3 separate regions of the Homo sapiens genome follow, and all the other regions are linked to region 3. The links come from fine-mapping of genetic effects on gene expression. A gene starts in region 3. Each other region holds a variant in brackets. All regions are shown on one strand. Distances are from middle to middle.

Region 1 (10,519 bases), 28 kb after region 3:
ATAAATGTTGTTTAAGCCACCCATCTGTACTATTTTGTTATAGCAGCTCAAACACACACACATACACACACACACACACAATCCAAAAATTTGAAATCCAAAATGCTCCAAAATCTGTAACTTTTTAAGCACCAGGACACCACAAGTGGAAAATACTACACATAAGTACTTAACACAAACTTTGTTTTATGCACAAAGTTATTTAAAATATTGCATGAATGGGCCAGGCACAGTGGCTTATGCCTGTAATCCCAGCACTTTGGGAGGTTGAGGTGGGCGAATCACTTGAGGTCAGGAGTTTGAGACTAGCCTGGTCAACGTGGCAAAACCCCATCCCTTCTTAAAAAATACAAAAATTAGCCAGGCATGATGGTGTCCACCTGTAATCCCAGCTACTTAGAGGCTGAGGCACGAGAACCCACAAGGCAGAGGTTGCAGTGAGCCAAGATTTCACCACTGAACTCCAGCCTGGGCAATAGAGTGAGACCCGGGCCAGGTACGGTGGCTCACGCCTGTAATCTCAGCACTTTGGGAGGCCAAGGGGTACAGATCACGAGGTCAGGAGATTGAGACCATCCTGGCTAACACAGTGAAACCCCTTCTCTACTAAAAATACAAAAAATTTGCCAGGTGTGGTGGCACGCGCCTGTAATCCCAGCTACTCAGGAGGCTGAGGCAGGAGAATCACTTGAACCTGGGGGGCGGGTGTTGCAGTGAGTCGAGATGGCACCACTGCACTCCAGCCTGGGTGACAGAGCGAGACTCTGTCTCAAAAAAAGAAAAAAAAATAGAGCAAGACTCTGTCTCAAATATATATATATAAAATACATATATATGTATGTGTGTGTGTATATATATAATATATATGTATGTGTGTGTATATATATGTATGTGTGTATATATATATACTTGAGACAGAGTCTCACTCTATTTATACATATATTTAGTATATATATAATATAATATATATATATATTGCATGAAATCTCTTTCCCTCTCCCCTCCCTCCCTCTTAGGACTTCATTTGAATCTCTTACTGCAAGCTAACTTTTATTAAAATGACCTTTGTATGAGTCTTCTCCTCCATAGATTGGAAGCCCCTATCGAACAAAACCATGTCTTACTAATTTTTTGCATTTGAATATAAGGTACTCAATACTTGTTTGCAAATATAATTTATTTTTAAATTTCTACCGTTCAAAGTTGACAAATTAAACATAACTGGGAGAATTTTTTCCACCATTTCTTTCTTGACACTTTCTGTGCTTTCTCTGTAGGTGCTACTCTTGCCTTGCGGACTAAATTTTCAGCCAGCCAGTTTTGGGATGACTGCAGAAAATACAACGTCACTGTCATTCAGTATATCGGTGAACTGCTTCGGTATTTATGCAACTCACCACAGGTAACACTCCCCCCGTTTTACTATCATTTTGAAATGGGTAAGATGGAAATTCAAGTCACTTTGGGTTGTGCTAGGCTTCAACTGATTTGCATATATCAGTTTTGAGTTTAGGATACAATTATCATGATAAAGTACTTGGCACTATACCTACCATATAGAGGGGACTTAGTAGGTGGGAGTTAATATTATTATTATGATGATGATTATTTCCTGCCTTTTTACTTGTTTTCACATCTTACTCCCCACCTAGCATATCCTGCATTTCCCCCTCTGCTTACTAAAAGCCAGTGTCAAAGCCCAGTTCAAATGATACCTCATACATTAAACATATTTGGGTCACTCCAACAAAAGTCATTACTCTTCTCCCCTACGTCATTTTATTTCTACCCTCTGTGGCCCTTGTCATGTTGCAGGAGTTTGTGTTCATGTCTCCCATCCTTCCTTGGCTGTAATATCTTTGATGGCTGGAACCACATCTTGTCTCCTTGTTTTCTGTTATACCGAAGGCATACAGGAAACTTTTACTTAATGCTGTTTAACAAATAAATCTCTGTGTGACTTTGAAACCAGCCAGCCAAGTCTGTCACCAAGCTGGGAACAGATGCCCCAGGGCATCTCCAATGGCCTTGGATCTGCCCTGTTTGCAGATGTTCAGCTCTCGATGGGGTTGTTCTCAAGAGCTCCTCCTGCCCAGTCCCTCAACTCTCATCAGAGATCTGGTATCAGATAGGATTTATCAATGGTGGCACTGCTGACATTTTGGGCTTTTAATTCTTTGCCGCGCGGACTTATTCTGTGCATTGTAGAGTGTTTAGCACCCTTTGGACTTTGCCCACGAGATGCCAGTAGTAACCTCCCCACCTCCCCAGGTCATGATCATCAAAATGTCTCCAGAAACTGCCAAATGTCTCTTGGCAGGGAAATGCTAACCTAGTTGAGAACCACTGTACTAGACAATGCAGTAAACTCACCAGATTCTAATCCCTTTCACCAGATTCTAGTTCCTTTATTCAGTCAGTTTAAACTCAAAGGATCACTAAGTTGATAAATTGCTATTGATAAGCACCTGTTGTACTCACCTAACATACCAGCTGCCGTGTGACGCAGAAAGAAGTGTCAGATGCTCTTCCCCCAGGTCTCTCTCACCTCACTTTACTCAGTCTCTGCCCAGATGTTGCCTCATTAGAAGACAGGCCTCTTCTGCTAATAATCAAACATATCATCTGCCCCTCACTGTCCAGCTTGTCACTGCATTTCATGGCACCTGTCACTCCTGACATAGTAAAGGTTTATGTGATTATTGTCTGCCCCCCCTCGCCCCAATTAAATGAAAGCCGCATATGAGCAGGGGCTCTGTCCACTACCAGATCTACGGCACCAAGATCTGTAAATGACACATCATAGGCATCAACAGATTTTGTGGACTGAACCTCTAAATCCTTGCCCCTGAAAAATGTGTAGTTGAGTTGAGGGAGCTAAAATGTTTCCCCAAAATGTTTGGGCTTAGCACATATTATTCTGATTTTTTGGCATATTCAATAGATTCTCGAGGATCATCATTAGCAGTGAGTTGGGTTAGGGTATTTTCCACAGCAGTTCTGTTCATGTCATTATTGAATTTTTTTCACATTAATATTCCACGTGGCCTCCAAGATAGCATGTCTCTCTATTAAAATCCAGAAATCCATATGGGACCCTTCTGCTGGGCTTTTCTTCTCTACCTTAAAGGCACTCCTTTGTCAGTTAGAAAATCTCCTGGGGAGTGTGTGTTGTTTCTGTATGTTCTAATGGGAGCTTCCTTTGGACTGGACGAAAATAAATATGTTTGTGTGTAGCTGTCTTCAGGCCCACACATATCCACATATACACATGCACACATACACACATGCATGCACTCTCCCAGTTTTTCTCTTACTGTTGTCTCAAATACTGGAAAACAAAGACAATTTCACTGGGGTTTTACAACTTCAAAATATACTATGATTTAATGCATAATCTTGAATGACCCCTGGACTTCCTATTTGCCAGTGCTTCCCCACCCCTGAGTTCTGTTTGGAAAATATTTATAAAAAGTATAATAAAAGATCAAAGTTATCTCAAAAAAAAACCTTCAGTTAAAGATTTTTTTAAATTATAGGTCATCAGTCCAGGCACGGTGGCTCATGCCTCTAATCCCAACACTTTGGGAGGTAGAGGCGGGCAGATCATTCAAGGTCAGGAGTTCAAGACCAGCCTGGCCAACATGGAGAAACCCAGTCTCTACTAAAAATACAAAAATTAGCGGGGCTTGTTGGCACGTGCCTGTAATCCCAACTACTCAGGAGGCTGAAGCAGGAGAGTCGCTTGAAAGCAGGAGGCAGATGTTGCTGTGAGCCAAGATTGCACCACTGCACTCAAGCCTGGGCGACAGAACAAGACCCTGTCTCAAAAAAAAAAAAAAAAGGAAAGAAAGAAAGAAAACAATCATATGTCATTAGACAAGCAGGAGATCTATGCAAATTTTTTTAAATTTAATCATAGGTCATCATAGGAAGTAGAAAGTACAGATTGTATGGGATGTAGGGAAAGATTATATCAAAAAGACTTTGCAAAAAAAAAAAAAGAATTGGATAAAAACTAGAATGAATGGGGGAAGGGCCTGGATCAATGTAATCAGGAACTTCTTCACCCTTAGAGCTGCCTAGAATACGCTGTTGCTGGAGGGACTAACCCCACCAGCGACCCCCAAGCACTGGATGCCAGGGAGGCAACCTCTGCCTTAGCAGAACAGCTAAACCAAGTGACACCCATCCACAGACATATATGGCCCAGCTCATCAGGAGAATCTGGGGCCAGTGTTGGGAGGTAGAAGCCACTGTGCTTCTCTGCCCTCTTCTTAACCATATTCAGTAGCTTCTCTAGTAGAGCAGTGGGCTATGGAGAATGCTTCCAGCCCTGCTCAGGTCAGTGGTTCAGATTTGGCCCCAGGTACTTAAAGTAATGCTGAGAGCAAGTACTCTGGAGTTAGTCGGCCTGCATTCTGACTCTGGCATTGGAGCAGGATAGTTAACCTCTCTAAATCTCAGCTTCCCGTCAGCCAACAAGGAGATAATAGTACCTACCTCACATGGGGTCTATGAAGACAACCTGAGATGATATATATAAACCACATAGTAGCTGGAACTTAGTAAATTCTCAACACATGTTGCCATTATTATCATTATCACTTTCCATGCCTAACAGTGTGTAGCTCATAATAAGTACCCCATACATATTTGTTGAATGAATCAATGAAAATTCTGCCCACTTACACAAAGGAAGAAATAAGGGAAAACATTCTACTTAGTTAATCACTCTCATCTGAGGTTGAGTAGGGGATGGGATAGCAAAGCTACTGACTTAAGTGATTTTTAAAATATTATAGTGAATATTTTCTATTTTGCCGTCTTCCCGCATTGTATTTGGGCCTTTGCTTTCAAAGCGACTGTTTGTAATGAAAGGCCATTCTGATTCATTTCTTGCAGTGTATGGTTGTCAGCTCCCATTCGGTTTTTGTAGTTGCCTAAAAACAATGTCATCTAGGGAAAGTTATTTATTGGAGCATGATATTGCTAAAGCTCAGTGTTTCTTTCCTCCAGTTACAGACTGAAGCTACAGTCTGTACTGGACAAGGCTCCAGTACAGGGGTCTCAATGAGGCTTTATGACACCTGCTGGAGTGTGGGAGGAGGAAGACAGAAAGGGAACCAAAAAAGAGTTCCAGGGGCCACACATAGAACCATGATATTTGGAAGGAGAAATAATATTGGCCAGAACCCTGAAAAAGCTGAATAGATTCAACTTACCTCTAGTGTTGACTGCGTCCCCCCAGAATTAGATAACCTCTGTGGTCCCTTCTAGCCTAAAATTTCTGTCTCTGCATCAGCTTCATTCTGTTCAAAAAAGAGAATGGATGGATCTGTTGCAGCACAGAGTGGAGAGTGGCCAATATGACTGGGGCCCAAGACAGAGGGAGGCCAAAAGAAAGAGGGAAGGGGAGCAGAATCAGGAAGGTTCGCCAGGGAAGGTGGGCTTTGAAGAGTACGGAGAAGTTCTGCAGCCAGGCAAGAAAAGAAGGGCTTCTGGCTAGCAGGAAAATCACGTGAGCAGTGAGATGAAGGACCCAGCACACTGGGAACTGCAAGCAGTCTGGCAGGAGGTGAAGCTGAGGGGCTGGGTCAGGTGGCAAGGGCTTTACTCTGCTGAGACTCAAATGTGAACATGACAAGCCATGACTAAAGGGCCTTACATGGAAGAGCAATGTGGGAGATGGCATTTTTAGACAGTCCTTTTGGCTACGATGTGAGAATACACAGAAGGATGAAGGGCCTCTTCTGTAAAGCAAACAGGTGGAG[C/G]CTTGTCCAGGCAGAAGTGTAACATATTAATTATTAAGAACAGGGACTCTGGAGTTTTTCTAAGGTGATAAAGACCTTCTTCCCTTTCACCTCTTGGAAGTCACCCCAAAACAAGGCGATGAGAAAAACACACACAAGCACCATCATCTCAGAAACTAAGAGACATTGCAACCATGAACTACATAGTATAGGAAGCTAAAAGATAACAGTGACTGACATAGTAGGCTGAGAAGGGTGAAACTTAAGAGGCAAGTCCCAACAGGAAGGAAGCCAGTTGCCTTCCTGAAGGCTGAGAAATTGCAGGCTTTGAATACAGCTGAAGGTGGGATGAAGTGTCAGACTTAAAACAGGGGAGTTATTTGAAAATCTGTGTAAGAAGTAAAATACGGAGGACAGGATCATGGCGAGCGGGAGGCAGGACTAGATTGTGGCTCCAGACAGAGCAGCATGAGAGGCTCACATTGTGAATTTTAGCTCCAGCTTGACTGCAAGAACTAACCAGCAACCCCAAGAGGACCCACAGACCCTCTGAAAGAAGTGGATTGCTCCTAGAGGACCCGGGAGACACCCCAAATACTGTGATCGCCCCAACTGCAGAAGTGGGAAAGGGAGACCCTCATCTCCCGAACACATACTGGAGAAGCTGAAGGTCTGTTTGTAGAACTTCCCGACTTTACCTGGAGCCTCGTCAAGTTAGAGAGCCAAACCGAGCAAAATACAAAGGTAGAGGAAGCTGCAGAAAGGCCCTGGGAGCTCACTGGCTCCCCTAGCAGCCCATTCCCGCCTGGCACCACAGGGATCCATCAGGAGGGTGGCCAGAGGAGCAGGGGGCAAAACTCCACAGGGAGAAGGAATTCTCTAGCTAAACTTTGGGATAATTTGAACGGGGCAAGAAGACTCCTGGCCAGAACTCCAGGGAGGGTGTGAATCTGGCTTGCAGACTCCACAGGCGGAGAAGAACTAAAGCCCTTTCTTTAACAGCTGGGAGGCAGAAAGCCTTGGGCAAGTTTTCAAGCCTGACTCGCCCTCCACCTGGAAACAGACTCGGGGCCGTTGAGGGGGCACGGTGGGAGTGAGACCAGCCCTTCAGGTTGCCTGGAAGCTGGGTGAGGCCTGTGACTGCCAACTTTCCCCCACTTCCCTGACAACCTGCATGACTCAGCAGAGACAGCCATAATCCTCTTAGGTACACAACTCCAGTGACCTGGGAATCTCGCCCCCATCCCCCACAGCAGCCACAGCAAGACCTGACCAAGGAGAGTCTGAGCTCAGACAGGCCTAGCCCTGGCCCCACCTGATGGTCCTTCCCTATCCACCTTGGTATCAGAGGACAAAGAACATATAATCTTAGGAATTCTAGGGCCCTGCCCACTGCTGGTGCCTGTCCACACTATTACAGCTGATGCTTTCTGGAAAGTACCACCTCCTGGCAGGAGGCCAACAGCACAAAACAGGGAATTAAACCACCAAAGTTAAGGATCCCATGGAGTCATTGCATCCTCTGCCACTTCCACTGGAACAGGTGCTGGTATCCATGGCTGAGAGACCCATAAATCATTCACATCACAGGACTCTGTTCAGACAACCCCCAGTACCAGCCCAGAGCCAGGTAGACTTGCTGGGTGGCTAGACCCAGAAGAGAGACAACAATCACTGCAGTTCGGCTCACAGGAGCCACATCCATAGGAAAAGGGGGAGAGTATTACATCAAAGGAACACCCCATGGGACAAAATTCTGAACAACACCCTTCAGCCCTAGACCTTCCATCTGACAGAGCCTACCCAAATGAGAAGGAATCAGAAAACCAACCCTGCTAATATGAAAAGCCAAGGCTCATCAACATCCCCAAAAGATCACACTAGTTCACCAGCAACGAATCCAAACCAAGAAGAAATCCCTGATTTGCCTGAAAAATAATTCAGGAGGTTAGTTATTAAGCTAATCAGGGAGGAACCAGAGAAATATGAAGCCCAATGCAAGGAAATCCAAAAAAACGTTACAAGAGTGAAAGGAGAAATATTCAAGCAAATAGATAGCTTAAAGAAAAAAACAGGGCCAGGCATGGTGGCTGAAGCCTGTAATCCCAGCACTTTGGGAGGCTGAGGCAGGCAGATCACAAGGTCGGGAGATTGAGACCATCCTGGCTAACACAGTGAAACCCCTTCTCTACTAAAAATACAAAAAAATTAGCTGGAGTGGTGGCAGGCACCTGTAGTCCCAGCTACTCGGGAGGCTGAGGCAGGAGAATGGCATGAACCTGGGAGGCAGAGCTTGCAGTGAGCCAAGATCGCGCCACTGCACTCCAGCCTGGGAGACAGAGTGAGACTCTGTCTCAAAAAAAAAAAAAAAAAAAAGTAAATGAAAAAAACAAGCAAAAATTCAGGAAACTTTGGACACACTTTTAGAAATGCTAAATGCTCTGGAAAGTCTCAGCAATAGAATTGAACAAGTAGAAGAAAGAAATTCAGAGCTCGAAGTCAAGGTCTTTGAATTAACCCAATAAATAAAGACAAAGAAAAAATAATAAGGAAATATGAACAAAGCCTCCAAGAAGTCTAGGATTAAAAGACCAAACCTAAGAATACTTGATGTTCCTGAGGAAGAAGACAATTCTAAACACTTGAAAAACATATTTGGGTGAATAATTGAGGAAAACTTCCAAGCCTTGCTAGACCTAGACATGCAAATACATGAAGCACAAAGAACACCTGGGAAATTCATCACATAAAGATCTTTGCCTAGGCACATTGTCATCAGGTTATCCAAAGTTAAGACCAAGGAAAGAATCTTAAGAGCTGTGAGACAGAAACACCTGGTGACCTACAAAGGAAAACCTATTAGATTAACAGATTTCTCAGCAGAAACCCTACAAGCTAGAAGGGATTGGGGCCCTATCTTCAACCACCTCAAACAAAACAAGTGTAAGCCAAGAATTTTGTATCCAGCAAAACTAAGCATCATATATGAAGAAAAGATACAGTCGTTTTCAGACAAACAAATGCTGAGAGAATTCGCCATTACCACGTTACCACTACAAGACCTGCTAAAAGAAGCTCTAAATCTTGAAACAAATCCTGCAAACACATCATAACACAACCTCTTTACAGTATAAATCACACAAGACCTATAAAACAAGAATACAAGTGAAAAAGCAAACAACAAAAAAACAAAAGTTCACAGGCAACAAAGAGCATGATGAAAGCAACAGTACCTCACATTTCAATACTAACATTGAATGTAAATGGCCTAAATGCTCCACTTAAAAGATACAGAACTGCAGAATGGATAAGAACTCACCAACCAACTGCTGCCTTCAGGAGACTCACCTAGCACATAAGGACTCACATAAACTTAAAGTAAACAGGTAGAAAAAGGCATTTCATGTGAAAGGACATGAAAAGTGAGCAGAGGTAGCTATTCCTATATCAGACAAAACAAACTTTAAAGCAACAGTGGTTAAAAGAGACAAACAGAGACAGTATAGAATTGTAAAAGGCCTTGTCCAGCAGGAAAATATCACAATCCTAAATATATATGCACCTAACACTGGAGCTCCCAAATTTATAAAGCAATTGCTACTAGACCTAAGAAATAAGATAGACAGCAACACAATAACAGTGGGGGACTTCAATACTCCACTGACAGCACTAGACAGGTCATCAAGACAGAAAGTCAACAAAGAAACAATGGATTTAAACTATACTTTGGAACAAATGGACTTAACAGATATATACAGAACATTTCATCCAACAGCAGCAGAATACACATTCTATTCAACAGCGCATAACTTTCTAACTTTCACCAAGATAGACCACATGGTGGCCCATAAAATGAACTTCAATAAATTTAAGAAAATTGAAATTATATCCAGCACTGTCTCAGACCACAGTGGAATAAAACTGGAAATTAACTCCAAAGGAACCTTCAAAACCATGCAAATACAGGGAAATTAAATAACCTGCTCCTGAATGAGCATTGGGTCAAAAACAAAATCAAGACAGAAATGAAAAAATTCTTCAAACTGAACGACAATAATGACACAACCCATCAAAACCTCTGGGATACAACAAAGGCGGTGCTAAGAGGAATCTTCATAGCCCTAAACGCCTGTAACAAAAACACTGAAAGAGCACAAACAGACAATCTAAGGTCACACCTCAAGAAACTAGAGAAACAAGAACAAACCAAACCCAAACCCAGCAGAAGAAGGGAAATAACCAAGATCAGAGCAGAACTAAATGAAATTGAAACAAACAAACAAACAAAAAAAAAGATAAATGAAACAAAAAGCTGGTTCTTTGAAAAGATAAAATTGATAGACCATTAGTAAGATTAACCAAGAAAAGAAGAGAAAAAATCCAAATAACCTCACTAAGAAACAAAACAGGAGATATTACAACTAACACCACTGAAATACAAAAGATCATTCAAGGCTACTATGAACACCCTTACGCACATAAACTAGAAAACCTAGAAGAGCTAGATACATTCCTGGAAAAAATACAACCCTCCTGGCTTAAATCAGATTAAATCAGAATTAGATACCCTGGAACAGACCAATAACAAGCAGGAAGATTGAAATGGTAATTTAAAAATTACCGACAAAAAAAAGTCCAGGACCAGATGGATTCACAGCAGTATTCTACCAGATGTTCAAAGAAGAATTGGTACCAATTCTTTTGACACTATTCCACAAGATAGAGAAAGAAGGAACCCTCCCTAATTCATTCCATAGAGCCAGAAT
Region 2 (10,519 bases), 66 kb after region 3:
TTGTGATAGTATATTACTGTTTAACATCTATCCTTAAAGTTCTAACTAATGCCCAGCTTTGTTTGTCTTTAATACTCTTTACATAACCCATTTCAGAGTCACAACCTATCAAAGTACCATCTGAAATGGAAATAAAATTATGTGTTTGGCCTCTGAACTAATTATGGGCAAGCCACTTGTGAGCATAGCTTTTATTTGACTACCGGGTCCAGGAAAATAAGGGGAAAATGCACAAGTTCCAAACCTAGAAAGGAAACATTTAAATGTACTGGAGGACCAGAGCAGCCTGCTGGGCTGTGAGCTCCTGTTCAGGTCCAACCTTGAGCAGTACTGCATGGTGGAAACAGCCTGGGCTTCACTGGAAGCCAGGAGACCTGGGTTTGCCTATTTAAAGCTGTGTGACCTAAACGTTGGTTTCCTCATTTATGAACCATGAGCCACAGTGCCTGACTCATAATTGATGCTTCAAAAAAAGTACATATGTTTAAGCTCCCAGACTGGTTAATCAATGTTTCAGCAGCCAATTAAGTGACACAGGGTATGTTTTGTTTCAGGGACAAGCATAATTTATTTCTGTGTTATATATCATGTCACAAGCTGAACCACAGAAGCTGCCTGTCTACCCTCGGCCCTTTCTCACTGACCAGACTGCTGAACCCATCTGGATCATGCTGGCTTAAACTCTTCGTTTGTATCCTATTGTGGGTCATGAACCCCTATGAGAATTTGATTAAAATTATGAACTCGCCCCAAGAAAAATGCATGTACACATAAGCACACAAAGTTGGCATACAATTGTGAGGGGTTCACAGAGTCCCTGAAGTATATCCTCAGACTCTGGCTGAAGGCCCTGTGTCTAAACCATGGCCTGCAGAGGGCAACAGGGCAGCTGGAGTCCACATTGAGAGCTGCATTCAGGAAAGCTGGGGACGCTGTAGAATTTGATGAGTTTTTTGAAGGCACTTTTCTTCAGCATCATCATGTCTTCTGGAAACCTGGAAAAGATTCTGACCCTGGAGGAGCCCCCATTCTTCACAGAGGCCTCTGTGGGCAGTGGCTTCTGAGCACTCACTGGCACACTGTTGCAACTGAGGGAGCGCACCGTCTTCTTCTTAGTCTGCACAGACAAGTAACTGAACAGGAAGGAGGACAGCTTGTGCTTGGTGGCATCTGGGGCCTCTTCTGAAAAGCAGTCATCAACTGGGTCCAGCAGGGTTTCAAGATGGAGGCCATTTTCCCTTTTCATGGGACCGGCTCCCACACGCTGAGGCTGCTTGATGATCTTCCTGGCCTGGACTGGATCATCTCCTGCCCCACTGACAGACTGAAGGGACGTTCCACAGGCCCAGGCTCTGGCACCCCTGATTTGGGAGATGAGGTTCCCAACCCGAGGGCTGGGTTGGGAAGTACAGTGCTGACTCAGGATGAGAGTGGCAGCATCTCGAATGAGATTCCAGTCTCTCAGGATGTCATCCCTAGTGGTAAACTGGGATGTCACAGTGAAACGGATGATTAACTTGTCCTGGATAGTGGCCGGGATGAGGAAGAGACGGCCAGCTTTAGCTATTTCCTTTAACACATTTTCTGTGAGACAATTAGGACCCTGTTTGAAAAATAAAGGAAGTGAAGTCTCCATCGCACCCCCTGTCAGCATCCCCAGAGCCCAGCATTTGTGTTTCCGAGAGGCTCTGGAGCACCACAAGACATCATTCACAGAGGGGCTTGGAAGATGGTATTACCTTTAGACGAAAAACCACCAGGCCAAGGTGCCTCTTGGCAGGAATTTCAAAGGAAGGGTCGTTTCTGACCAGAGATTCAAAATATTTAGCCATTTCAGTACCCTGGAATTGCAAGTATAAAGAGAACTGAGATTAATCATCAGACAAGAGACTATGCATAAACTTTCAGACTGCTAAATGGTTTTAAACCAGGGCCATCTTCCCGTCACAGCCGTTGTAAGCGGCTTCTGCCTCATTGTCATCTCCATTTGATTTTGCTCATATTCCAAGCTGGAAAATTTCCAATGGCGCCCTGTTTCCTGTCACATGGGATCCACCTCGAGAACTCATCTCAGGGCCCTCTTTCAACTCAGCCCCAGAACCCAGAAGGCATGTGCTTTGCAGTCCAGGCAACCCGGCCTCAACTCCTGATTTCACAGCTCCTTGACTGGCCAAGTGGGCAAGTGAGGGCCAAAACCCAGTCCATGCTCTGCGTTCCCAGCCAGGTGCCTCATGCGAGCTGCGTGTGCCTAAAGGAAGAGATGCCTGTTTGTAGTGCACATCAAGTTGCCATATGGGCTAGTGGCGGCCCTGCCCCATCCTAAGCCTACATGCTTCACTTGCCTCTCAAACCTCTTCTCACCCTGTACCCCAAATGCCCTTTTCATCCCCTGTTTCTGACATTCCATAGAGAACATATTTTCACATCTTGTCTCCACCCATCATGGAAAGGTTTTGGACCTGGTTAATGGATACAGAGTTTCTGCTCGGGATGATGAAAAAATTCTGGAAATAATGGTGATGGTCACACCACATTGTGAGTATTCTTAATGCCACTGAATTGTACACTTAAAAATGAGTAAAATGGTACATTCTATGGTATGAATATTTTGTTACAATTTTAAAATGTTAAAGGCTTTGTATTATATTAATCTTCCACTGAAGTTCATACCATCTTTTTAAATGTCCTGGGGTTTTTTGCTTTTTGTTTTTAACCCAGGATTACTAACTAAACAAGGACAGGACTTGCCTTCTCTTTTCTTTTTAAAAATTTCTCCAAGCATCCAGAAGATCTCAATAAAATATTTGCTAAGTAATTCTATCAGTTAGTTCTCATACTTACTGCTCTATTTCAAGAGAGGGCAAGGGAGTTAGCTGAACCTCTTTTTTTTTTTTTTTTTTTTTTTTTTGAGAGATAGGGTCTTGCTTTGTCACACAGGCTAGAGTACAGAGGCATGTTGCACAATCAAAGCTCACTGCAGCCTTGAACTCCTGAGCTCAAGTAATCCTCCCACCTTCACCTCCTGAGTAGCTAGGACTACAGACATGCACCACCATGCCCAGCTACATTTTTTAATTTTTTTGTAAAGACAGTGGTCTCACTAGGTTGTTCACCCTGGTATCAAACTCCTGGGCTTAAGCGATCCTCCTTCCTAGGCCTCCCAAAGTACTGGGATTACTGGCATGAGCCACCATGTCTGGCCCTGAGCCTGTCTTTTGACCATAATGAAATGAGTTTCTCCAAATCTTTCTCAGAGCCCCTTTCTCCCCTGCGTGGTCAGTTTCAAACAGCACAGGAGTTTTGACCTGCTCCATTTCTAACCTGGGCCCCTTCACCCCTCCTTAGGCAACCTGGTGATCCCTTGCTCCTGGGAGGTCACCATATTGATGCCGAACTTAGTGCGGACACTCAATTGGCATAGCACACCATAGCCCAGAACTCCCACCTGGGCTATGGTGGGAGCAATTGAGCTTCCCACCTCAGCCTCCCAAGTAGCTGGGACTACAGACACGTGCCCCTGTGCCCAGCTCAATCTTTCCATTTTTTAGAAGGAACCAAGGGAAAGTGACTTTCCCAAGGTACAAGTGACAGTAGGTAGATCTCCTCCCACTGTGCTTTTATCCCTCCTACAACACATGCTGTTTGCAATAACAGAAGCAGAGGTCAGGGGAGAGGAGAATACAGAGCACAGGCAGCACTGCCACCTCCAAAGCCCCACTTTACAGGTCATGAAAGCAGAGCTGCTGCCAGTGCCCTGCACCGCTCTAGGTCAAGGGCAGGCACAGTGCAGCCATGGCCAAATATAGCCCCCACCTGTGTTTGTAAAGTTTTTTGGAACACAGCATTCCCATTTGTTTACATATTGTCTACGGTAGCTCTTGTAGTACAGAGGTAATTACAATAGAGTATGGCCCACAAAGCCAAAAGTATTTAGTATCTGGCTTTTTACAGGAAATGTTTACCAATCCCTATTGTAGGTGATAGGAGATGAGGATGATGATGATGATGATGGTGATGATGATGACAATTTATTATAATTAGATGAAGAAGGAGATGATGAAGAAGGGGAAGAAGAGAAGAGGAAGAGGTACTCATTGAGTACTTAACTGAGTAGTAGGTAGACCCTGTGCTAAGGGCTGCATATATATTATCTCATTTAATTTGAGAGAGGTAGTATCCTTTTCTCATTTTTATAAATTAGGAAGGCATGGCCAGGGGTGGTGGCTCATGCCTGTAATCCTCGCACTTTGGGAGGCCAAGGTAGGCAGATTGCTTGAGCCCAGGAGCGTGAGAACAACCTGGGCAACATGACAAAACCCCATCTCTACAAAAAATACAAAAAGTAGCCAGGCATGATGGTATGCGCCTGTAGTCCCAGCTACTCAGGAGGCTGAGGTGGGAGGATCACCTGAGCCTGGGGAGGTCAAGGCTGCAGTGAGCTCTGATGGCACTACCGCACTTCAGCCTGAGCAACAGAGACCTCATCTCAAAAATAAATAACAATAAATAAATAAGGCAGACAAATATAGAAAGGTTAAGTAATTTGTCTAAGGTCATCAAACAGTAAAGGGTAGAACTAAAAATCCATTCTTTAAAGCACTTCTCTGTAACACAGAAATATGAAATTTAATTTTATATAACTTTCCAAGAGCTCAGTGTAGTAGAAAGCAGCCCAGAACTATGAAGAAAGGATTTGGAATTGGGAGGCTTCAGGGAAAGTCCCGGGCCTTCTTCCCTCAAGCAGGGCAATTACTCCCTCTGAGCCTTGCCAGGTTAGAGTGACCACCCCAGGCACTGTGCTAAGGATCTAATGAAGAACTAGAATTTATTTTTGTATTGAAGGCATTACGCAAGTGTCAATAATTATCATCACCGTCAAGTTGAAGAGATAAAATCAAATCATATCAAACAACTTTATTTTAATTCCATTTCTTCTATTGTGGGACATTGGAAGAACTTTGAGCACAGTTTTGTAAAGGTGTTTGAGTAGGTGATCACAGGAATGCTAATGAAGCAGAAACCAGAACAGATGGAATAGGCAGAAAAGCTTCTAGTGGAAGCAGAATTTAATCCATTCACAACATTTGGAGAGGAGAGGGTAGTTCAGGTGAAGGACACGGGTGAAGGTGCAGAGATGGACTGAGCATGAGGTCTGGATGGGTCGATGAAATGCCCAAGCTAAGGTAGGAGCTAATCGTCAAGTCCTTGAAAGCCAGGCCCAGGAGTGTGGGCCTCATATGGTAGGCAATGGGGTTGCTAATAGGAGGAATTCAGGGGTTTGATTTGCAAACAGAAGTGCTAAGGGAGGTTAGTCAGGATCTGCACATTGAATATCCAGTCCCAAACTGTAAGCAAAAAAATGTTCCTAATTACTTGTAACCTCCACCAACCATTCCCCGCCCACAACCCTCCAGTCTTGAGTCTGCATTTCTAGAAACAGCACAAAGTGCCTAAAGTTCCTCAATATTGTTGGTGGCAGCTGCTCATTGGTAAACAACCAGTGGTGATTACAAAGGTAAAATTACCAACATTAAAACCAGTCATAGGAAACTGGAGAACATTATGTTAAGCAAAATAAGCCAGGCACAGAAGGACAAATTTCACATGTTCTCACTCAAACGTGGGAGTTAAAAAGTAAGCAAACTGAGCTCGTGGAGACGCACAGTAGAATGATGGTTGGCAGAGGCTGGGAAGGGTAGCAGGGAATGGGGGATAAAGAGGTGATAGTTAACGGGCGCAAAAATACAATTAAATAGATCTAATGTTAGGCGGCACAATAAGGCAACTATAGTTAACTATAATTTGCTGTACATTTCAAACTAACTTAAAGAATGGAACTAGAATGTTTCTAACACAAAGAAATGATAAATGGTTGAGTGGTGGATACCCAGTTACCCTAATTTGATCATTGCACATTGTATGCCTGTATCAAAACCTCACACATACCCCATAAATATATACGTAATTATTATGTAAGCATAATAATTATTTTTTTTAAATGTTAAAAAAAATCATAGTTACCGCTTCCACCACTTCATTTTGGTTTGTGTTTGTTTAACCAAGAAGGAATTCCCTAGAGGAAAGGTGGAAGGACAAAGACACACATAGGCAGAAAGGACAGTGTCTTCAGCTTCCCCCACTACTTTTATCAATGGCTTTGTCTTGCATGTGGACTCTTGTAGAAGTGGGAGAACAATGCCAGTGGCCAGAGTTCTTAGTTAAGTCCCGCTTCTTCCATGAAGAACATGGGAGAGAGGCTGCACCTGTCTCATTTACCTCTGTGTCCCTTTCTTAGCACAATACCTTGTAATTGTTGAATTGAATAGAAATAAATTAAGCAAAATAGGCCTTCAATAAATGCCTGTTGATGCAGGGAGGTTTGTTCCAGACTTGGTAGGTCTACCTGTCCAAGCCAGGGGAGCTTTATTTCAGGCATAATCATAATAGTGCTAAAATATTCAGCCAGCTGTGACCATTGAGGTAATTCCAAAGCAGATAGGATCCTACCCTGGCCACACACACTTCCCCTTGATTTACTTTCTCTTTCT[CTT/C]TCCTGCAAACCAGACTCTGGGGCCAACCCTCCCCAGTGCTCAGTGACAGCAAGGGGAACGGTGAGACACTCAGCAGAGGACAGGCATCAGGCAGCCCTCAGGGCATGTTGTGCTCAGCGCTCCTCTGGTTAACAAAGAGAATCAAGTCCCAGGAGCTGAGGAACAGGCCCAGACACCTGAACCACACACCGCAAGTCTCCTAGGCAGATCTGCAAAGTAGAAACCAGCCTTCCTCGCCATGAGAAAACAGAGGAACACAGGCTCAGCCCCCACAGCAGCATGCTACATACATGTCTGACATGTGCTTGAAGATTCTTCACCCCGAAGGACCGAATCACGAACCAGAGTTTAACAGAGCGAAACCGTCGGCTCAGGGGGATCTGCCAGTGCTAGAAACAAAGGAACACAGTGCCCAAGGTTAGAGACAAGGGTGCCCCACTCCCTCGGGCATTTCTGGGCATTATCTGTTGCCTGCCCAGCCCTCCAGGGATGGACGATGTCACCATGACTCTGGGAGCTGTTGCTAAGGAGTAAGCCAAGCTCCCCAAGGGTTGCCCCATCGTGTGACCAAATCACTGATGAAGGTGGCCAATAGTCACTTGTCTGAGAGCCAGACAAGTGGAAGTCAAGTCCATTACCCTGAACCAATGAGAAGGGCACTTTGCTTTCAAGTGCTGCTTTAAACATTTCATCCCGGCCCAGAAACTCAACATAAGGGAAATACATTTTTACTCTAAATGAATCTTTATTCCTTGAATAGCAGAAAATAAAGTTCTATTTTTATTCCTCCCAAAATGTAAAGTATGGTAGTTAGAGCACAGACACTAGAGCCCTGCAGACCTAGGTTTCGCCTCCAGCTGTGCCACTTACTAGCTGTGTGACCTTGGGTAGTGCCACCTCACTGGCTCATCAGTCCGGGACATAAAGAACCAATTGCACCTCCCGGGCAAGTGGTGTGAGGACAAAGAACGCCAAGAGCCTCAGAAGAAGTTGTCAGTAGGTGTTGGCTATTTAGATTATTTTAAAATGTGAGCTACAAATCACAGTAGCATTTCTGTCTAGAGCCAAGATGACCCCTATTTAACCTTACACTGCCTTGTTCATTTTCCTGTGAGATTCCTGTGATCTGAGAGCCATCACTCCAGCTGTCAGATTTCAAATGAGCACCCAAATTTCTGCCGCTGTTAGATGAAAATTGACTCTTTGCTCCTGGTGGCCAAATTCAACAGAGCTTAAAGTTCAAGGTTGCAGTCACCATACATCTGAAAATTTCCAAATCAATTTCAGACTGATTTCTCAGATCTGAAAATAGAGCAGAGGATTTGGAAAACATTTACAGTTATTCTAATGAGTCACGTGGTTTCCTAATGACATCTCCCTCAAACGTCAGAAAGTTTCTACCACAATTTCTGTTGACTAAAAATAAATGTTTGTCCCACTGCGTATTTATCTGCCCATACACAAGATTATCAAATCCTCACAAATGTCCTCACCTTCACCCTTCACCCCAGTTTCCTGAGCCAGGCACAGTTGGGATGTTACCCCTTTGTTGATGGACAATGTTTCCCCAGCAGAAAACTACTAAGCCTTTGATTTCCAAGCAAAACTCTGTTGTGCTGGGGAGCAGCTTGGGGGCTTTTGTGCCAGCAGAAGGCATCAAAACCTGAAAATGGAACAAAATTGCTGTAACAAGGAAAGTGTCAACTCCACCTCTTGTCCAATGGACACTCCAAGAGAATAATGAACGGATGATAGGGATCATCTGTCAAAAGGTTCTGGTTTCCAGATAGTTATAGCCAATTTATTTCATATATAGAGAGAGCTACTTTATTTTACCAGCAAATAAACCAGGATAGGCAGAGGTGATTTTATTTTGATTTCTTCACAATCTTCCTTATTCCCAGTTGCTCCTTTTCTTGTCACTATTCCAAAACTGATCCATGCTGACTCAGCAGAGTGGTTCTAGCCAACATTTTCTGTTGGATCAAAAAATCTGGACGTATAAAGCCTGACAGGGCTCTTCTTTACCTTGAGGCATCTCCAGCCTCCTCTGTGTCCTTGTAAGGTCCTTGCAGGGCTCCCTTGCCAAGGCTAAGGTAACGCTCCCTCCACTGGTGCTCTCTGTCCAGTGAGAGGCAGAAAACAGGGAGCTTCTCCGCTGTCAGAGAATCTAGCCCTGATTTTAGGTGATTCCAGGACCCCAGGGGTTAAGCACCTAAGTCTTCTCTCCTGGGATGCTGCCCTGTTTCTGGCTCATCTCAGAGCAGGACTGAGCTTCTGTTCAAAGCTGCAGCCACCTGGGTGGGAAAGACATTGGGCCCAGGTGAGAGTAGCTCTGAGGACCCTCAGGATCATGAAAAAGATAGCAACTTCACTTTTCTAGGAGTTTCTTCATGGACTTGAAAATCAAATCCATAGGATTAAAGGTGGGGGAAGGGTAAGTGTAAGGCAGTGCCTTCTGGGTGGAGAGGTAAAAATAATAAGGTTCCCCAGAGCAGGGCTGGGAAGAGTTTACTCTAACATTTTTATGAGTTATCTGGAAGACAGAGAGCACTGTAAAATCTCCAAACTCCTAGGAATGAACCCCGGGAAGATCCTGAGGCACTGTGGTAAATGAATTTAAACGGTAACATGAAATTCAAAAGGGCAAGGGTGAATATAATGCTCCTCAGTTATGATGACCCAAATACACTCATAGGAGAATGGGCATCAATTCACACTCAGGAAGCAAACCTACAGTTATCCCTAAAGATATCTGACCCTTGGGCTGTTCTGGAATTTTTTTAATTTTTCATTAAAAATCTCTGAAAACCTACCAGAAAGAGCAGTGGAGATAAAGAACCATTATTTTTCTTTCTTTCTTTACCTCTAGAGGGTCTTCTGTCACCACCAGTAAGCCGTGAGGCTTACCGCTGCAATTCTAATCCAAAAGCTTCAAATATCTAAAGAGGGTGTGGACTGGTCCAAGGGAGAATAGCCAGTATAATCAAGTGATGACGAAGCTATTATTTTAAGACTAAAAGGGCAAGACACTTCAGTTGTCCAAGAAGATAAGATAAAACCATCTCTTCACAAGGAAGGATGCTTACAGGGGTCAGACACTGCTCTCAGCACTTCAGTGTATTAATTTGTATAATCCTCACAGCAAGCCTAAGAAGCCAGAACTGTGGTCATCAGCCTCATTTGACACAAGAGGAAATCTGGACACAGAGTTTAAGTCACTTGCCCGAGGTCACACAAGTTAGTAAACAGAAAGCCAGGACTCCAACACATGCCATCTGGCTTTAGCACCTACATGCCTAACCACTGTCCTAACAAATCTCTGCAGCTTCAAAGAAGAGCTTTCAGAAATACTATGCCTACCATATATTGAGCACTTGCCACACGGCTATTTTGCTAGGTGATCCACACGTGTTCCCATTTAAGCTTCACAATACCCTATGAATCAATGCCACTATTCTCATTTTACAGATAAGGAAAGCAAGGCTCAGAGAGGTCCAGTTAGTTTCCCAAAGGGCCACTGCTGGAATGGAATTCCAAACCAAGCTTGCCCCCACTCTGCTCTGCTGCCTCCGTTGGCCAGGTTATGTGTAATACATTCGTTTACATCCCTGTCTCCCCTACAAGTAAAGGAAGGGCTCATCCTCAAACTGCGGAGTCAATTTGTTAAGAACTCGTTTCCCTCAGGCAAAATACTGGCTGAGGATGTGGAATCAAGAGAGTTGAGGTTTGCTGGGCGCGGTGGCTCACGCCTGTAGTCCCAGATACTTGGAAAGCTGAGGCAGGAGAATCGCTTGAACCTGGAAGGCGGAGGTTGCAGTGAGCCAAGATGGCGCCACTGCTCTCCAGCCTGGTTGACAGAGCGAGACTCTGTCTCAGAAAAAAAAAAAGAAAGAAAGAAAGAAAGAAAACAAAAGAAAAGAGAGAGAGAGTGAGTTAGAGAGTTGAGGCGCAGTCAGTTGGGAAAG
Region 3 (10,519 bases):
TGGCCATAATTAAAAAATCAAAAAACCGTAGATGTTGGCATGGATGTGGTAAACAAGAAACTCTTCTACACTGCTAGTGGGAATGTAAACTAGTACAGCCACTATGGAAAACAGTGTGGCGATCCCTTAAAGAACTAAAAGTAGAACTACGATTTGATCCAGCAATCCCACTGCTGGGTATCTACCCAAAGGAAAAGAAGTCATTACTCAAAAAAGATACTTGCACACGCATGTTTATAGCAGCACAATTTACAATTGCAAAATCATGGAACCAAGCCAAATGCCCATCAATCAATGAGTGGTTAAAGATACTGTGATATATATAGTGTGTACATATGTATCGCAGTATATATATATCATAGTATAGAGAGAGTGTATATATATACCGCAGAGTATATATATATATATACCACAGAGTATATATATAGTGTGTATATATATATACTGCACAGCATATATATATACACTATATATAAACATTGTGTATATATACACACACAATGGAATACTACACAACCATAAAAAGGAATGAATTAACAGCATTTGCAGTGACCTGAATGAGATTAGAGACTATTATTCTAAGTGATGCAACTCAGAATTGGAAAGCCAAACATCGTATGTTCTCACTGACATGTGGGAGCTAAGCTGTGAGGATGCAAAGGCATAAGAATAATACAATGGACTTTGGGGACTTGGGAAGAGTAGAAGGAGGGCAAGGGATAAAAGACTACAAATCTGGTGCAGTGTATACTGCTCAGGTCATGGGTGCACCAAAATCTCACAAATCACCATTAAAGAACTTGCTCATGTAACCAGATACCACCTGTACCCCAATAACTTATGGAAAAATAAAATATTTTTTAAATTAAATTAAAAAATAAAAAACAAAATAAATAATAAAATCCAAAAAAGAGTACATTGTGACTGGGATGGAGAGTATGTGTGTTGCAGTGGGATATTGAAAGAAGAGAGAGAAAGCTGTTGAAAAAATACAAACCAAATCTGGAGAATTAGCACACATATTAGCACTAGAAACAATGATGATTTCATCAGGAGTTTTCCCTGAGTTAGAATTCAACACCTAATCAAAGACATTCTGGTCAGAACTAAAGAGGGCAAACATCTTTTTCTCAAATTATAAATTGTCCTGACTGTGTAGCAAGCACAACTGGGATGCCAATGCAAGGGTTTCCTGCTCTGTCATGTCTAATATCAATAATCAGTTGTTCTCAGTCTCACCTTTTTTTCATTCTCCAAAAAGAGGGTCAATCTTATCACATACCACCTCCATCAAACCCTTGCCATTTTGTTGGCTGAATACCTGCACATCCTGTATGCCTATACTCAAATGGTACCATGCTAGACAGTCAATAGGATGACAGGCACCCACATTTCAAGAAATGTGATTAACTTATGGCAACAACAGTCAGAGATTATTCTTCCCACAAACCACTGAATGAGTCAGTCACACAAAATTTCTATTTGTACCAAGTATGTAATGTCACAAAAATTGCAAGCTTCATAATCTATACTTTTTTGTCAAGAATGGCCCTGTGCATTAGGTGCCTCAAATTCTACAAAATTAACACAAGTCACTGTGAGAGCTCAGTACACTTCTCAAAGCTACTCAGCCAATGCATGACAGATAAAGACTCAAAATCAGGTCTTCTGGCTTCAAGTCTCACAATCTTTTCTATTACTTCATTCCAGGAAATTGAATTCTAGTTACGAAGGCAAAACTAACAGGTAAGAAACAATCAAAAGCCCACCTATGCGATGGGTTTATAAGTTCAGTACAAGGGCTGGATCAGCATGGGCTGGAAGATTTAAAGGAAAATGTTTGGGAATACTTTTTTTCACATGAACTCTACATGGAAGTGTAAAACAAGTATATGAGCTGTTTTGATTGGAGCTAGGGTAGGATCCTCCCAGAGCCCCTTTCCCACTCTATGCAATGAACTCTCCTCAGTAACTTCTCAGCCACTAGGGCTCTACCGAGTAGTTTGGAAGCCAATGGACTAAATCAGTAGTTCTCAAAGTATAGTCCCTGGACTAGCAGTGTCAGCAATACCTGGTAACTTCTTAGAGATGTGAATTCTTTGAATCAGAAATTTTGGAGATGGGGCTTAATAAACTATATTTTAGCATGTTCCCCAGGTGATTCTCAGACTTGTAAAGTTTGAGAAATAGTGAACTACTTCATCTCCATAAAGTAGGAAGGGACGCCACCTGCTTTAAAAGAACATTTGAGATTGGGATTGGAAACTTTGAAGGGGGTAGGGAAGGTCTGGGACTGCCAATAGGAAGCCTTCTCTCAAATAGCAGAGATAGATGATAGGGATGAACGTCCTGACCAAGGCTAGAAGGTGTCAGTATGCACACCCAGTAATCCTGTCTTGCCCCTAAACTTCTCCTGCAATACCTAGAATAGGACAGAAGACAGTGGGCATTTGAGGTCATCTATACCTGGATAGAAAGTTTAAGGAAAAGAGGGGTCTAGGAGGCCACGTTGAAGTGACTGGCCAGGAAGGGACCGAAATCTTGATAGAGGAAATGAATAGGCTCAGTAATGTCAGAGAATGGGAGAAGTGGAATGAGGAGGCTTAACTAAGCCTATGGGGACGGAGAATCTCCATGTCTGAGATCTCAGTGCTGACAAAATCCTAAATTACATCAAAGTCCAAGATCTGGCTCTATTTCATATTTCCCTGTGGAATTTATGTTACTGAATAGACAAACTTGTATAAAAACAATTTCTATATGGTATAAAAACCCAGACAAAAGTTGCAGTTTTCTACATTCAAAAATATTTTTAATGTTTTTATTTTTATCTGTTTGTGAGAATTTGTAAGATTATTTTGTTTTGTTTTTCATATGAGATGGGGTCTCACTGTGTTGCCCAGTCCAGTCTTGAACTCCTGGCCTCAAGTGATCCTCCTGCCTCAGTCTCCCGAGTAGCTGGAATTACAGGTGCATGCCCCCACACTTGGATAATTTCTGTACTTTTTATGTGTTGGTGTAACATTGTCTTCGTCTTTTCTTGGAAAGGGCTATATGTTTATTGTTACTGTCTTTAAAATTGTGGTAAAATATGCATAACATAAAAATTAACTATTTTAACCATTTTTAAGTGTACAGTTCAGGTATACTTTTTTAGTGCCAAAAATGTCATTCTTCTATAAAATAACAAATATACTGTGATGGGGGAGGGGGTTGTTCTTACTAGAAAAATTAAGAAGTCGTTACTTATTTTGAGTCCCTAACTTGGTTTCGAAATATAACACGGGACTAAGAAATTCAGGAATCAAACAACTACTGCCCTAAAGGAGAGTTGAGATTTACAGGGTTAGGATGGTCAGGGGTGGAAAGTGGTAAGAACAAGCCAGTAGAAAGAGGAAGGTGCAGGGCATTTTTAGGAGTGTGCAGACCAGACTTGCTAAAAACAAAGTGCGCTTGAAAAGGAACAGTTAGAATTAAGTTTTGGTCCATTTTAAAATATTTAATACCTAATAATGTTTGGTTCATAGCAGAAACTCAATAAATATTTGTCAATTGAGTGTAGTGAAAGCTTGAGTGAGATTCAGAAGAGCCAGAAAATAAAGTTTAAATTTCATTTTATAGACCAGAGGTTCCCAAGAGATGTACCAAGAATGGGCAGCCAACGTGCTAAGCTATCGATCACCTTTCAAAGGAGTCAGGCAGAAGCCAGGGCATCTGGTCAACTCTAGGCCAGGTATGTTCTAGTATGCTGTACAAGTACAACTGTCTATAGATGTCATTGGTGGAAGACAATAGGAAGCAATGGGGAACCACTAAAGATAATTGAGCAGTGGAGATATAAGATGGCAGCAATATTTCCAGGAAGACTATTGCTGTGGTTTTAATGTTCATGTCCCCTACAAAATTCATATATTGAAATCCTAACCCTCAATGTGATGGTATTAGGAGGTAGAGCCTTTGGGGAGTAATTTGATCATAGGGCAGAGCCCTCATGAATGGGATTAGTGCCCTCATAAAACAGGCCCCAGAGAGGTAATTTGTCCCTTCTACCAAACAGTACACAGTGAGAAGGCACCATCTGTGAGAAAGTAGCCCTTCACCAAACACCACATCTGCTGGCACCTTGATCTTAGACTTGCCTCCAGAAGTCTGAGAAATAAATTTCTGTTGTTTATAAACTACCCAGCTTACAGTATTTTGTTATAGCAGCCCAAACAGACTAAGACATCTATTAACCTCGTGATAAAGCAAGAGCTGGATCCCAGGCTCAAAGCTGGAATCACTGGGACTCCCAAGGTATATATTATAGACATTTGAAAATTACTTCCCCAAATTTACTCTCCCTAACCCCACTTTTTAATAATACCGTAAAACGTTCCACAAAATGGCCTAGGTGAAATTGATTATACTCTCACCCCCATGGGTGAGCGCTGATTGGCTTAAAACAACTAGCACCTTTTTCCCCAGGACCCACAGACATTGGTTCAGAAATGGGCGCATAATCCAGTCAGGGATTTTTTTTTTTATGAGAACTCCTAAGAAAAAGATTCCTGTACTTCTCTCTGAAGTTGAGCCAGAAAGCATGTACCCCTAAGGGCTGTTGGCAGCCATCTTTGGACAAAAACCAGAGAGCCTGAATGAGAACAGAGGAGGTGCAGAGGAGAAATAGTGAAAGCAAAACTAGATCCAGGTGTCAGCATTTAAAATCCTTGATGTCTTAGCCCCGGACTCTCCAGTTACTACTTAAATTCCTGTTTCTGCTTCAGCTAGCTTGGGTCTTGTTTTCTTTTACTTGTAACTGAGGTTAAAGTGATCCTCAGAATAAGAGGGGAAAAAGTGGACCCTTGTGGTAATCTAGCACTCTGGGTAGACAGTAGCTGTTCAAGGAAAAGAGAAGAGGGGTGCAGGTGGCTACACAGAAGCGATTAGCCATCAAGGGACGAGGGTGGCATTGGGATGAAAAAGGAAGGGCTGGCTCTGAGCTTCACCATGAAAGAAGTGCACATGAGAATGGTTTCTGTCGGGCCCTCACTTTGGTTAATTCTACTGCTTTCTCCTCAGGGATGATGAAGGCCCCCAGCTCATCCCCAGGGAAATGATGCAACCAGGTAGCTGGATCAGAAATGAAAAAGTCAGGAAAAGGGAAAGGTTGCTTGCGCAGTTACTAGGGATACGAAAAGGAGGCTAAAAAACGGCAGGGGGTGGCCTGGAGGGAATGTGAAACATTTTTGTGTGTTTTACACACACCGAAAAAAAAAGAGGACATGGACAGAAACCTAGAGAATAGGAGGACAGCATAGTATAGTTACTAAGAATAAGCTAAGAGTTGGTTCCCCGGGACCAAACAGATACCATTTCCAAAACCCACGAATTACTTACCGGCTGTCTCAATTCACCTAAGCTTCCCTTTCTTGTCTGTAAATGAGCATGAAAGTGCCACCTGTATAAAATAACTCAGGCTCCCAAAATGTAACATAGGGAAGCTCCTAGCAGCGTGTCTGGGAGGAATAAGCATTATCTGTATTTATCGTATCAAATTAAGATAGAGGAACACAGGAGGACAGTAGAGGATGAAAATAAAACACTACTTAGATCCTGACCCTCCTCAGTGGCAAGTAGTGAGCATTCACTTCGTACAGAAGTAGCACTAAGGCAAATTAAAAGAAAGGTTCACATTTCCTCTAAAAGAAATGGTTTTTGAGTCATGCCAATACCACTTACTCAATGTCCTCTGTACTATACTATTCTCTGACAGAGCCACTTATTAAATGTGTGAACTGTGCTGACAACACTTGACAACTTTCAACATGAGGGAACAGCAGGATCACTTAACAGAACAAAATCGTAAAATAATGTCAAAGCTTGATTTCAGGTGGTGCGGTGTAGCACTGCTCTTCACGAAATCAGGACTCCCCCGACCAGGCAGGGCCGACTAGGTTAGAGTGTCCTGCCCTCACTCACCTGGCAGGGCTTGGGATGAGCTGGACGTGACTGCCACAGGCATTTCTGTTCAACCTTGAAGCCTTCGCTACAGGAGACCGCCTGGCAGTCGGGCTGGGAAGCAAATCTGAGAAACAAAGAGAGACCAGGCGGAAAGCCCTTGGGACCAGGAAGGAGAGATGAGATTCTGGTTTGGCAGTGGCACCTGGTACCCGCTATTAATAAATAATAGGACTGTCTGACATTTATAAGGCACTTTATCGGTAATAACAGTGTCATCTCCATAAGCCATTCTATTAGTGGTAACAAATAATAGCCCCACGCCTGCAATATCTCCTTTAATATTCCCAACGTCCGCTAAGCGCGTCTCATCACCATTTAAAGAAACCGTGGCTCCTAGAGGTAAAGTACTTCGGTCACAACGCGAGGAGGTCCAGACTTGACCCCAGACCTCCAGACTCGAGCTGGGAAGTGGCCGAGGCTCCTGGTGAGCCGCAGGGCAGCCTGCCCAGCCCCGGGAGGACCGCGTGGGAGGGCCGGGAGAGCAGGTGGCTGCCCCCCACAAGGGGGCGGGCTCAGCCGGCCAGTCCTGCCCGGAACCCCCGGCAACGCGCATACGACTACACCTGCTCCGGAGCCCGCGGCGGTACCTGCAGCGGAGGAGCTCTGTCTTCCCCTTCATCTCACGCGAGCCCGGCGTCCCGCCGCGTGCGCCCCGGCGCAGCCCGCCAGTCCGCCCGGAGCCCGCCCAGTCGCCGCGCTGCACGCCCGGGGTGAACCCTCTGCCCTCGCTGGGACAGAGGGCCCCGCAGCCGTCATGCTTTCCGCCATCTACACAGTCCTGGCGGGACTGCTGTTCCTGCCGCTCCTGGTGAACCTCTGCTGCCCATACTTCTTCCAGGACATAGGCTACTTCTTGAAGGTGGCCGCCGTGGGCCGGAGGGTGCGCAGCTACGGGAAGCGGCGGCCGGCGCGCACCATCCTGCGGGCGTTCCTGGAGAAAGCGCGCCAGACGCCACACAAGCCTTTTCTGCTCTTCCGCGACGAGACTCTCACCTACGCGCAGGTGGACCGGCGCAGCAATCAAGTGGCCCGGGCGCTGCACGACCACCTCGGCCTGCGCCAGGGAGACTGCGTGGCGCTCCTTATGGGTAACGAGCCGGCCTACGTGTGGCTGTGGCTGGGGCTGGTGAAGCTGGGCTGTGCCATGGCGTGCCTCAATTACAACATCCGCGCGAAGTCCCTGCTGCACTGCTTCCAGTGCTGCGGGGCGAAGGTGCTGCTGGTGTCGCCAGGTGAGCCCCGAGGATCGCCCTGCCCTGGCACCAGGGCTTCTCGGCGCCTTGACTGACGAGCCACAGCGTGGCATAAGGGGTTCGCAGAGGGAGGTTCAGATCGGAACTGTAGGTATAGAAAAAGGTTGGCAGTGTTTCCTTGAATCGCAAATAATGATCTTTTAGGACCACCTGTTGTGGAAGCTGATAATGTGCTAGGTTCTGTGTTAAGCACTCTACAGGCAGTGTGGTTTTTAATCCTCACAATGGGTAGGCTTTGTTATAGGACTTTTATAGATGAGACCACTGAGGTCCTGAGAGGTGAAGCCTCATGCCCAGCCATCTATCTCCAAATTCCAAGCTCTTAATCAATACTTATAACATCTGCATTAAAATGCAGAGGATCTTGAGTGCGAACTCTAGTGGATCCAGAGGGGCTCTTCTCACCTCTGCTGCTTGACTGGCTGTGTGATCATGGGAAAGTCACTTCTCCTCTCTGTCCCTTGGTTTGCTCCTCTCTAATGAGGCAGGCTTCAATGTTGCTTCCAGCTCTCAACTGCTGTTAGCATCCTGTCCCCTCCCTGCAGAACAAAGGTGACCCCACCTGATCCCCAGGGAGAAGATACTGGGGATCTGCTACAGGACCGTTGTGAGCCCCCACTGCATCTATCACAATAGTGACCCTTTCAGTTCTGTGGTTAGCTCCTGCCACATTTCAGCCAGACTTGAAACAGTAACTTAAGTGATGACAAGGTCAGGAAGTGACAGAGAACCTGTTACTCACAGGGCTGATGGCTTTCCCCTCCCAGAGAGCTTGTCTCTGCACTTGAATAAGGACCAAGGGTTCCTTCTCTCAGTCAGTAAGAAGAGGCCTACACAGGAGTGGGCTGAAAGACCTGGGTGACAGGGTAGGGGTCGAGGGAGCCGAGGAGCCTCAGCTTTCTAGAATGCATTTCTGTGCTAAGCCCTATAGTAGATGCTTTTATTACCCCGGGAGATAACATATCACTATCCCCACCACCACCACCACCATTATACAGTTGAGAAAACTGAGGCTTAAAATTCCAACCTAGCTCTATCCAACTTCGAAGCCATGCTCTTTCCTACATCTTTTTTTTTTTTTTTTTTGACAGTCTCGTTCTGTTGCCCAGGCTGGAGTGCAGTGGCGCTATTTCAGTTCACTGTAACCTCTGCCTCCCAGGCTCAAGCGATCCTCCCAGCTCAGCCTCTCAAGTAGCTGGGACCACAGGCATGCACCACCATGCCCAGCTAATTTTTTGTTATTTTTGGTAGAAACAGGGTTTCACCATGTTGCCCAGGCTGGTCTCAAACTCCTGAGATCAAGCGATCCACCCACCTTGGCCTCGCAAAGTGCTGGGATTACAGGTGTGAGCCACCACACCCAGCCTCTTTCCTACATCTTATTGTTTTCCTCTGCATGGATGTAAACTGTTAAGTGTGCTGGAAGGGATGAAGTGTCCACTTGCTCTACCCCTTCATTTCATAGCTGGGGAAACTGAGGCAAGCTAAGCGGGTTACAGAAAGATGAAAGGTTAATTCACTTGTGAGAAACCAGGAATCTTACACACCTGCTTCATGTGGCATGAAATAAATAATCCAAAAAATATAGGCTTTGTATAAAAGTTTAAAAGCAGAAAGCCAAATTTTAGGCTGGGCGCAGTGGCTCAAGCCTGTAATCCCAGCACTTTGGGAGGCCGAGGCAGGTGGATCACTTGAGGTTAGGAGTTCAAGACTAGCCTGGCCAACATAGCAAAAACCCCGTCTCGACTAAAAAAAAAAAAATTAGCTGGGCATGGTGGCGCGTGCCTGTAATCCCAACTACCTGGGAGGCTGAGGCAGGAGAATCACCTGAACCCAGGAGGCAGAGGTTTCAGTGAGCCGAGATCATGCCACTGCACTCCAGCCTGGGGGACAGAGTGAGACTCCATCTCAAAAAACAGAATAAAAAAAAGACAAGTTTAAAGGTGGCTAAATTATTTGGAAGAGATGGTCCTTTCAAGAAAATTCCCATTAATTTCTAGCTGCCTGAGAAAAGCGATAACTTCACTACTTTGTAACTAGAAGACTCTCCTAAGCCTATTACTTTACCAGCTTGCTTGGAGGGAAATTATTAACACAGTGATCTTTGTACCACTTCAGGAAGCATTTAAATTCTGTTTATCACTTTAGTATCCCAGGTCCCCTGAGAGGGAGGTCACAGGGTTTGGAGTTTTGTTGACAAAGAAGTTCAGGATTAAATGACCATAATACAGTTTGATTCTGCAATAAAGTCAGAATTACAACCAGATACCCTCTTCCCACCCAGCTAACAGTTGTCTGCCATAGAGCTATGTGTTTACATAGAGAATATATGGGAATTTCTATATTAAACTCAAACGTGAACCAGACTTTACAGTGGACCTAAGGCACTCTCTGGACCGTCAACTGACCTCTGAGGGAGGCCACATATTTGAAAAAAAATCAGTTTTTCCAAATCACTGAGATACCTTTGCACATGAAGCAAAATTACAGTCTGTCACAGAGTTGCATGTTTACTAAACATGCCCATGGGAAAATATGTTGAATGGACTGATTCTTAGAATTCTTTGGTGTTGGAAGGGACCTTAGAGATATTCTAACCCTATAATCCTGTAAGTTTAATGAATGTGTTATACTTTAAAAAAAAAAGTTTACAGAAGAAACTTTAATAAGCCCAAGAATCACCTAGGAAGCTTACTTTTTTTTTTTTTTTTTTTTTTTTTTGAGACGGAATCTCGCTCTTTCGCCCAGGCCAGGCTGCTGTGGCGTGATCTCGGCTCACTGCAAGCTCCACCTCCCTGGTTCACGCCATTCTCCTGCCTCAGCTTCCTGAATAGCTGGGACTACAGGCACCCGCCACCACGCCCGGATAATTTTTTGTATTTTTAGTAGGGGCAGGGTTTCACCGTGTTAGCCAGGATGGTCTTGATCTCCTGACCTCGTGATCTGCCGGCCTTGGCCTCCCAAAGTGCTGGGATTACAGGCGTGAGCCACCACGCCTGGCCGGAAGCTTACTTTTAAAAACATTCTGAGGCTGGACACTATGGCTCACTCCTGTAATCCTAGCACTTTGGGAAGTGGAGGAGGGAGGATCACTTGAGCCCAGAAGTTCGAGACTAGCCTGGGCAACATGATGAAACCCCATCTCTACAAAAAAAAAAAATACAAAAATTAACTGGGCATGATGGTGAGCACCTGTGGTCCCAGTTACTGGGGAGGCTGAGGTGAAAGGATTGCTTGAGCCCGGGAGGTTGAGGCTGCACTGA

Direction of the effects. Positions count from the first base shown, and alleles are read on the strand shown. Sizes are in standard deviations (SD) of each study's normalised expression. Not every link is listed here.
For the expression in esophagus mucosa of the gene that starts at base 6,526 in region 3, G is the high allele of the variant in region 1 and C is the other (large effect, 0.80 SD a copy in GTEx).

What was found. PIP is the estimated chance that this variant, and not a neighbour inherited with it, causes the effect.
Region 1: its variant is fine-mapped to the expression of SLC27A2 in esophagus mucosa (GTEx, PIP above 0.99). The same link has a PIP of 0.9 or more in sun-exposed skin and unexposed skin.
Region 2: its variant is fine-mapped to the expression of SLC27A2 in whole blood (TOPMed, PIP above 0.99). The same link has a PIP of 0.9 or more in T cells and blood mononuclear cells.

What each region holds. Positions count from the first base shown.
Region 1 is chr15:50,203,962-50,214,480 of GRCh38, forward strand. SLC27A2 (solute carrier family 27 member 2) reads left to right here. Exons shown (of 10, transcript NM_003645.4): 4 at 1,278-1,402. Among named protein-coding and RNA genes, the nearest start is that of SLC27A2, 27 kb to the left of the region's middle. RefSeq lists an enhancer at 6,796-7,375. The variant C/G (reference allele first, on the strand shown) is at 5,775.
Region 2 is chr15:50,241,404-50,251,922 of GRCh38, forward strand. It overlaps HDC (histidine decarboxylase), which reads right to left. Exons shown (of 12, transcript NM_002112.4): 10 at 6,842-6,940; 11 at 1,740-1,841; 12 at 544-1,603. The coding sequence ends at 857. It also overlaps the pseudogene RN7SL494P. Among named protein-coding and RNA genes, the nearest start is that of HDC, 19 kb to the right of the region's middle. The variant CTT/C (reference allele first, on the strand shown) is at 6,549.
Region 3 is chr15:50,175,671-50,186,189 of GRCh38, forward strand. It overlaps SLC27A2 (solute carrier family 27 member 2), which reads left to right and starts at 6,526. Exons shown (of 10, transcript NM_003645.4): 1 at 6,526-7,235. The coding sequence starts at 6,758. It also overlaps a transcript of ATP8B4 not described here. RefSeq lists silencers at 6,418-6,757, 7,028-7,127.